Linked DNA regions of Homo sapiens: region 1 is linked to region 2. Evidence: fine-mapped expression QTL. A gene starts in region 2. The other region holds a variant in brackets. All regions are shown on one strand. Distances are from middle to middle. Region 1 has its middle 8.7 kb from the start of MIR6841. Region 2 holds the start of NEFM (neurofilament medium chain).

The links. PIP is the estimated chance that this variant, and not a neighbour inherited with it, causes the effect. A credible set is the group of variants that fine-mapping cannot tell apart.
Region 1: its variant is the best candidate, but not a certain one, in a credible set for the expression of NEFM in whole blood (INTERVAL, PIP 0.53).

Annotation. Positions count from the first base shown.
Region 1 is chr8:24,942,959-24,947,346 of GRCh38, forward strand. No RefSeq gene overlaps it. Among named protein-coding and RNA genes, the nearest start is that of MIR6841, 8.7 kb to the right of the region's middle. The variant T/C (reference allele first, on the strand shown) is at 1,764.
Region 2 is chr8:24,912,037-24,916,424 of GRCh38, forward strand. It overlaps NEFM (neurofilament medium chain), which reads left to right and starts at 1,725. Exons shown (of 3, transcript NM_005382.2): 1 at 1,725-2,837; 2 at 3,569-3,693. The coding sequence starts at 1,758. RefSeq lists an enhancer at 1,369-2,142.

The DNA of each region.
Region 1 (4,388 bases), 31 kb after region 2:
TCACGCCATTCTCCCGCCTCAGCCTCCCTAGTAGCTGGGACTACAGGCGCCCGCCACCATGCCCGGCTAATTTTTTGTATTTTTAGTAGAGACGGGGTTTCACTGTGTTAGCCAGGATGGTCTCGATCTCCTGACCTCATGATCCGCCCGCCTCGGCCTCCCAAAGTGCTGGGATTACAGGCGTGAGGCACCGCACCCGGCGGAGAAGCTTCTTAAGCTCCTGTCTCAGCCCTGGTCGTCCCTCCCCAGCCCAGAGCTCCTCCTCCCCCGACCACATGTGCATCCAGTCTGCCGGCGGAAAGAAACAAAGAGAGCAGGTGTGACCAGCGGCGATGCGAGCGTGGGTGGCGCCCGGGCAGAGCTGCAGGTGCAGGAACCCAAGGGGGCGGCTCCGGGCAACAGCGGTGATCGCGACAGTGAAACCAGAAAAAGTGGTATCTGGCCATTTTGATTTTTCAAAGCCTTTTATCTCAGCTCATTAGATTCTCACGGGTTTAGGGAGGCGTGTTTAGGTTACTTTAAAAAATATATATTCGAATGATCCGTATGTTCAGTGTAAACCTAAATACGCTCGGATGCGCTCCGCCCTGTCCAGGAGCACAACCCAGCCCCTCCAGAGAGACCCCCAGAGCTGGTAGTCACGAGGCTCAGGGAAGATAGAAATAGGGGCTGGGCCGGACGCAGTGGCTTACGCCTGTAATCCCAGCACTTTGGGAGGCCGAGGCGAGTGGATTACCTGAGGTCAGGAGTTCGAAACCAGCCTGACCAACATGGTGAAACCCCGGCTCTACTAAGGTGGCGGGCGCCTGTAATCCCAGCTACTTGGGAGGCTGAGGCAGGAGAATCGCTTGAACCCGGGAGGCAGAGGTTGCGGGGAGCTGAGATGGAGCCATTGGACTCCAGCCTGGGCAACAAAGCAAGACTCCGTCTCGAAAAGAAAAAAGAGAAGAAAAGAAAAGGAAAAAAGGAAAGGAAAGGAAAAGAAGAAAAGAAAAGAAAAAAGGAAAGGAAAAAGAAAGAAATAGGGGCTGAGGTCCTACGACCCTTCCTAGTTCTCCACACCGATTTGGGGGAGGTGGGGAGCAGTAGGCAGAGGAGGGTAGCCTGCCCTTACAGGTCTGCCCTGGGAAGGCAGGAAAGCCACAGACAGGCTTTCATCACCTCGGGAAACCTGCTGCCACTGGGTGAAAGAAAGTTTTTTGGGTGTTGTTGTTGAGATGGAGTCTCACTCTGTCACCCAGGGTGGAGTGCAATGGTGCGATCTCGGCTCACTGCAAGCTCCGCCTCCCAGGTTCAAGCGATTCTCCTGCCTCAGCCTCCCGAGTACCGCCACCATGCCTGGCTTTTTTTTGTATTTTTAGTAGAGACGGGGTTTCGCTATGTTGGCCAGACTGGTCTCCAACTCCTGACCTCAGGTGATCCGCCCCATCAGACTCCCAAAGTTCTGGGATTACAGGCTTGAGCCGCCGCGCCCGGCCTGAAAGGAAGTATTTTTCTACTCATTTTGCTTAAATTATGCATAAACTTGAGCACAGTGTTGTTTCCTAAGCCGGCTGGAGAGAGCCGCTGGGCTCTAAAAGCACCTGGGCTTCTACTCCCTGAACAATAAGATGACTGTCTGGCCCCTCTTATACAAAAACAAGCTAAGGGCATGGTGTCTAAACAACACACACTCACCGGTGCACACACCCCAACACATCAGGTTGCTTGCTTTGGCTGAGGAGGGACCGCTTGTTTCAGGGCTGTGTGCCACCCCAGGAAAA[T/C]TGCACCCGTGCTGTAAATGCTGAAAACAACTTCCACTCACTCCTATCTGCAGGCTTCAGCTGACTTCTCAGAAGTCACACTTGTCTTTTCCAGTTTTCACTGCTCAGGTGGGAGTAGGAGGACCTGAGGGCAGGTGTCAGTGTTCAGAGGGGAAATCGAGAACAAGCTGTGTCCCAGGTGCTCCTATTAAGTCACAGTGGCCCTTTGGGGATTTGGTTCACACTCAGAAGTCACTTCCACAGACACACTCAAGGGGAAGCCACTCTCTGGTTAAGTGTCCCATAACCAGAGTCCTGGGTTCACACTGGGATCCTGCTGACCATAGGGGCCAATTGACAAACCCATTGGGGAAGGTGCTGCATTTTACTTTCACCCTTGGGGCAGTAGAGGTGGCTCACACCTATAATCCCAGCACTATAGGAGGCCAAGGGAGGAGGATCACATGAGCCCAGGCGTTCCAGACCAGCTTGGGTAATATACGGAGGCCCCTGTCCCTACAAAAATACAAAAATTAGCCAGGCATGGTGGTGTGGGCTGAGGTCAAAGGATTGCTTGATGTCAGGAGGTTGAGGCTGCAGTGAACCACGATCACGCCACTGCACTCCAGCCTGGGTGACAGAGCCAGACCCTGTCTCAAAAAAAAAAAAAAAAAAAAAAAAAATCCTTAGTTTCACATGTCTGACACCAATTTTTCTGCCTTAAACTCTGAATGATTTGCGGCTTCCAGGTGAGATTCTCGCTCACACATATTCTCCTTTGTGTGCATCTAGGATGGGGAGGAGGAGAAAGAAAGAAAGCTAGCCTCTCTCTGTCTCTGTGTGTGTGTGTGTGTGTTAAAAAGATTGAGTTTTCCAGTGAATAAATGATTCAAAACAAACTAACAAATCAGAACAAGCAGATCATTCCTGCCTCACAGCTAGAGCTGATTAGGTAAAACATAGATAGAGTTTTAAATATAGGGTTTCTGTCTTTGCTGGTGGGGTAGATACACAGCAAAAGGGAGCATTAATTTTGCTACATCAAAGCATCCCGCTAGTTGCTATTTGTCTTTTTTCTAATGATCATGTCAGGAAACAGCCTATATTCCACATGAACATATAAGGATGTGGGATGGTTATAAATTGAAAAGACATTTACCTAAGAGTAAAAGGATTAGTGACCACCATTACACAAATGAAAGTGTCTTTAATAGCTATAAGAAGCCTGAACCTCATCTGCAGAATCTCATGTTTTTTGTTTTATCATTTTATATTAAGACTACTTGTAATTAACATAAATTATTGTTTATTAAAAATCTCCCATTTGAAATCATGTGCAAAAGTAAAGTATTTTTAAAAATTAGTTGTTTAAGCTTCCTGAGTAGCTAAGACTACAGACATGTGCCACCATGCCCAACTAATTGTTTTTTTAAAAAAAATATTTTTTGTAGACAGGGTCTCACTATGTTGCCCAGGCTGGTCTCAAATTTTTGGCTTCAAGCAACCTTCTTACCTCAGTCTCCCAAAGTGCTGGAGTTACAGGCATGAGCCATCATGCCAGGCCCTAAAAATAAATTTAAGATGTCAACTGGGATGCATTTGATCTCCCAACAAAACAATAAACAGTTTTATTTTTCTGTCACAATTTACCTTGTCACATATTAGCTGCCACCATACTTATTCCAATTAGCTAGAGTAATATACATTTCATTTAAAATGAATGAATGCAGGAAGTAAAGCTCTTAAAATATAGCTATCACCTTTTATAGAATAGAAATATGGGATTACACATCAGGTGCTATTAGAATGTACATGATATCTCGTGAATACACAAACCCACTGAGGGAATTATTAAAGAAACACTTCACTAGAAGGGTAAACATGAAGACATACATTGAATATTTATTGCCATGCTATCTAGAATTTTTATGAACATGTTTTTAAACTTAAATTGGGACACACATAACAGATAAGAATGAGTATACTGGTGAAATTAGAGCAGAAGAATATTTAAAACTGGAATTATTTCAGAATCTGTGAAATGCATGCCTGTTTTTCATAAAAGAAATATCCACATGCCTAGCTATCTGTGGTAGCCTCTAATGATCTCCCCTTCTTGCTATTTGCCCTTGATATATGCCCTTGTGTAGATCTCTCCCACACTGAATCAGGCAGACTAGTCTCTGTGACCAACAGTACACAGTGTTAGTGATGGTGTGTGACTTTCAAGCCTTGGTCATAGGAGACATTGCAACTTCTGCCTTGGTTTCTTGGAAGCCTTGCTCTGGGGAGGTCCAGCTACCATATTGTAAGGATACTCAAGCAGCTCCTTGGAGAGGCCCACATGGAGAAGAAATTGACAGCCAAGTTGATAAGTCTCTGTGAAAGGCATCCTACATCCCTAATCAAGGCCTTCAGTTAATAGTACCCTCAGTCAGTCATCTTCTGACTGCAAGTCCATCAGCAGCCAAGAGCCAGAAAATCCCAACGGGGCCACTCCAAAATTACTGACCTGCAGAAACTAAGAAAGAATGAGTAATTGAGGTGTTCAAAGCCACTTAGCTTTGGAATGATTTGTTATGCAGCAACAAATAACTAATACATACTACATATTAACATGTTGAAATATTATGTTATCAAAAGATA
Region 2 (4,388 bases):
TCTGCAATCTCTTCTTCACTTTATCTTGTAGTATTCTGAACTTTTTTAACCTGAATTACCCCCAAAGCACTACCCAAAATAAAGGGACATTTTAACAGGAGTACACCAGACAGCAAGAAGTCTGTGTAGAGTTCTTGTTTGCATAAACATGTTTAATGATATAGAAAATCTATTCCAAATCAATCATTAAAATCTAAAGCGAAAAATATATTACATTTTAAATGAAGGGAAAACATCTGATTTTATTCAAGGTTGTGGTGACTCTGTTCCGCAACTTTTAAATCAATTTAAAGTTAATTCAGATGCCTTTTCAATCATTGCAGTTACACATAGGGAATACTGAACCGAAAGATGACAAGGCAATTGTCTGTGTCCAAACTTAAGAAAAACTATATTTCCCTGGACTTTTCATCCCAACAGATTTCAAATTCTCCTTTCCAAGGAGTATTTGACCTTCACATTTCAGGCCCTGTATCTCTTCATTTCCTATACCACCATATGTTAGAAAACTCAAACTGGGCTACAAGTATATATTTCTGTTAACTGACTTTAATGAATTTTGGTTGTTTTCAAAATCTGCGATCTGTCCATTGTGCCAACCCTGCATTGCAGGGAAGTCTTAGCCTGTGATTCCAGCTTCGCTCCTGCAAAGATAGTCACTACAGGCAGGTTTAAATTGTATTTACTCGGAGAGAAGAGGGGGAAGGGAACCCCCTGCCCCCTGCCAACCTGACAGGCCAGGCTGGGTGACAAGCCCCCCGGGTGGCTGCACCTCCCACTCGCCGACCTGGGCGCTGTCCTTGGTGCTGCCGGCGCCATAGCGAGCACAAGCGCCTTACCTTCTGCCCCTGCGGAAGCTGCGGACGTCCCCCAAACGTTAAAAACGCCATATCCCACTTTTTATACAAATAACTACCCCGGCCTGTTCTCTTTGTCCCCTTCCCGAAGCCTTCAGGCAGACCGTTCCGCAAAGTCTTTTTTTTTGTTTTGTTTTGTCTTCTAGACCCAGCTCCTCGGCGCTCATCTCCAGCTGCTTTAAGACAAGGGGTGGGGGAAGGGGAGGGAGGCAAGAAAAGATGAGGGTGGGGGAGGGGAAAAGAGGGAATGCAAGGGGAAGGAGGGAGGAGACGGGGAGAAGGAAAGATTGGAAGAAAAGGATCTCCGAGGAAGGGGCTGAGAGAAGGGCAGGGTGAACTGGACTAAAGGCCAGAGTAGGAAGGAGAAGAGGGGCCAAAAAAGAAGGGGATGAAATTAAGCACAGAAGATGGGTAAAGAAAAAAGTATCAGGGAAAGGGCAAAATAAGAGAAAGCCTTGAGGATAAGAGGGTAGAAGGCTAAAGAACAAGGGGACCACGGGGTCGGGGAAGCGCTGCCTGAACGGCGGGACAGTGACAAAGAAAGGGCGCTGGCGATATTCGCACCAAGGGTGCGAAACGCAATCGGGAGGTGAGAAATGGAAAGAAGGCGAATGCCCGGCTACAAGTAGCCTGGGACTGAAAGGGGACCTGGGGGAGGGGCTGGGCCCAGGGCAGAAAAGTCCAGGTTCCCATGCGGCCTGGGCCCACGTGGAGCGGGCGCTGAATCACCGTTCAGCCGCCCCCCTCCCCTCCTCCCCGACCGGTGCCCGCAGTCCCCGCCTCCTCGGCCGCCGCCTCCACGGGGCGGGGCCCTGGCCCGGGACCAGCGCCGCGGCTATAAATGGGCTGCGGCGAGGCCGGCAGAACGCTGTGACAGCCACACGCCCCAAGGCCTCCAAGATGAGCTACACGTTGGACTCGCTGGGCAACCCGTCCGCCTACCGGCGGGTAACCGAGACCCGCTCGAGCTTCAGCCGCGTCAGCGGCTCCCCGTCCAGTGGCTTCCGCTCGCAGTCGTGGTCCCGCGGCTCGCCCAGCACCGTGTCCTCCTCCTATAAGCGCAGCATGCTCGCCCCGCGCCTCGCTTACAGCTCGGCCATGCTCAGCTCCGCCGAGAGCAGCCTTGACTTCAGCCAGTCCTCGTCCCTGCTCAACGGCGGCTCCGGACCCGGCGGCGACTACAAGCTGTCCCGCTCCAACGAGAAGGAGCAGCTGCAGGGGCTGAACGACCGCTTTGCCGGCTACATAGAGAAGGTGCACTACCTGGAGCAGCAGAATAAGGAGATTGAGGCGGAGATCCAGGCGCTGCGGCAGAAGCAGGCCTCGCACGCCCAGCTGGGCGACGCGTACGACCAGGAGATCCGCGAGCTGCGCGCCACCCTGGAGATGGTGAACCACGAGAAGGCTCAGGTGCAGCTGGACTCGGACCACCTGGAGGAAGACATCCACCGGCTCAAGGAGCGCTTTGAGGAGGAGGCGCGGTTGCGCGACGACACTGAGGCGGCCATCCGCGCGCTGCGCAAAGACATCGAGGAGGCGTCGCTGGTCAAGGTGGAGCTGGACAAGAAGGTGCAGTCGCTGCAGGATGAGGTGGCCTTCCTGCGGAGCAACCACGAGGAGGAGGTGGCCGACCTTCTGGCCCAGATCCAGGCATCGCACATCACGGTGGAGCGCAAAGACTACCTGAAGACAGACATCTCGACGGCGCTGAAGGAAATCCGCTCCCAGCTCGAAAGCCACTCAGACCAGAATATGCACCAGGCCGAAGAGTGGTTCAAATGCCGCTACGCCAAGCTCACCGAGGCGGCCGAGCAGAACAAGGAGGCCATCCGCTCCGCCAAGGAAGAGATCGCCGAGTACCGGCGCCAGCTGCAGTCCAAGAGCATCGAGCTAGAGTCGGTGCGCGGCACCAAGGAGTCCCTGGAGCGGCAGCTCAGCGACATCGAGGAGCGCCACAACCACGACCTCAGCAGCTACCAGGTAGGAACCGCGGCTGCGCGGCCAGCCTGCGCCAGCGCCAGCGCCGCGCGCCCCCGACACTTGGGCTCGTGCCCAGGCGCCCTCTCCGCCGCGCTCCCTGGTGGCCGCTCGCTAGAGCACGCGCGCCGCAGACCTAGGGTATTTGCGGATCAGCGTCCTCGCCCATCTCATCCTCCACACTCCGCCCCCACCCACCTGCCCCAGCTGCTAAGGGTCTTGACCTTTTTCAGAAACGTGCATCTTTTCCAGTTCTAATTTTGCACGCTTGCACGTTTAAAGCAGGAGGGATGAATTCGGTAGTGGATAAATCAGCAACTTTAGGATAGCTTATGCAGAAACGCGTGTATTCTCTACTTTTCCGGCAGTGATCGGAAGAGCTCTCAAAATTGGCTTCAGCCCAAAGGGCTCAGATGGGAATGGCCAGGTCAGCCATGGAGTTTCCCCATGCATGTTTGTGTCCTGTTGAGACGTGTTCTAAGTCCACTGGTCTCCGTGCGTGATGTGCCCAGGAAGTGTCCTATTGTCTTACTGATCTTGTATGTTCATTTGAGAATCGCTTAGATTTAAAAGAAAAAGGGGGTGGGACGGGGGGCTGGGAGTCAGGTGTCAGCGAGGTTTGCAGAAGTGGAGGGAGACGGGAGGAGGCCAGGGGGAAGGGGTAGCAAGTGGTTTGCGAAGGAAGTTGCTGTTTGCAAGGATGAGTCTGGGGAGATTCTCTGTGTCTGTTTCAGGACACCATCCAGCAGCTGGAAAATGAGCTTCGGGGCACAAAGTGGGAAATGGCTCGTCATTTGCGCGAATACCAGGACCTCCTCAACGTCAAGATGGCTCTGGATATAGAAATCGCTGCGTACAGGTACGATGCTTACTACGTGCGTGGCCGGAACACTAACCGCAGTGCAGAGGCTGTTCCGGCAGAGCTTCCACCACTTAAGTTAAAGCAGGCAGGGTGCAGGCATCAACTCAGCACCTGGTTATCTTGCTTACTTAAAAAGAAATTATTCTAAAGAATTGCAAGTGTAGTTTTATCTCTTTTTATGCAGCTTTAAAAGAATGAATACTAGTAGAAACAAAAGGTTTTTGAATTACACAAAGGAGGTGCAGATTAATCTCAATGCACATGCTTAAACTTTTTATGGAAAAATGTTTTCAAATGCTGGAAGCATGAACAGAGTTTTGGTTTCTAATATTTCATCTAGTGGTTTCAGCTTTTCAAATGTATAATGTCAAGGACAAACACCAGGACGTTCTATTTCTCTGTTTCTCTGTTATATAGCTTACTATTGCCATCATCTGGCTGAGAATAGATATAGAATGATAGAATATAGATATAGTTCTTTTATATATGTAGATAATTTATATGTATTATATTTTATGCTAGACTGTAGTATAAATTATATCAATATATCATGTATGATATTAATCTAGATCTATAGATACACATATGTGCATATGCATATAAATCTAGATATATAGACACAAATATATATGATCGTTTTATAGATAGTGAGATAGGTTATAGGTCTATTAACTGAAGTGACCTTGCTGTTG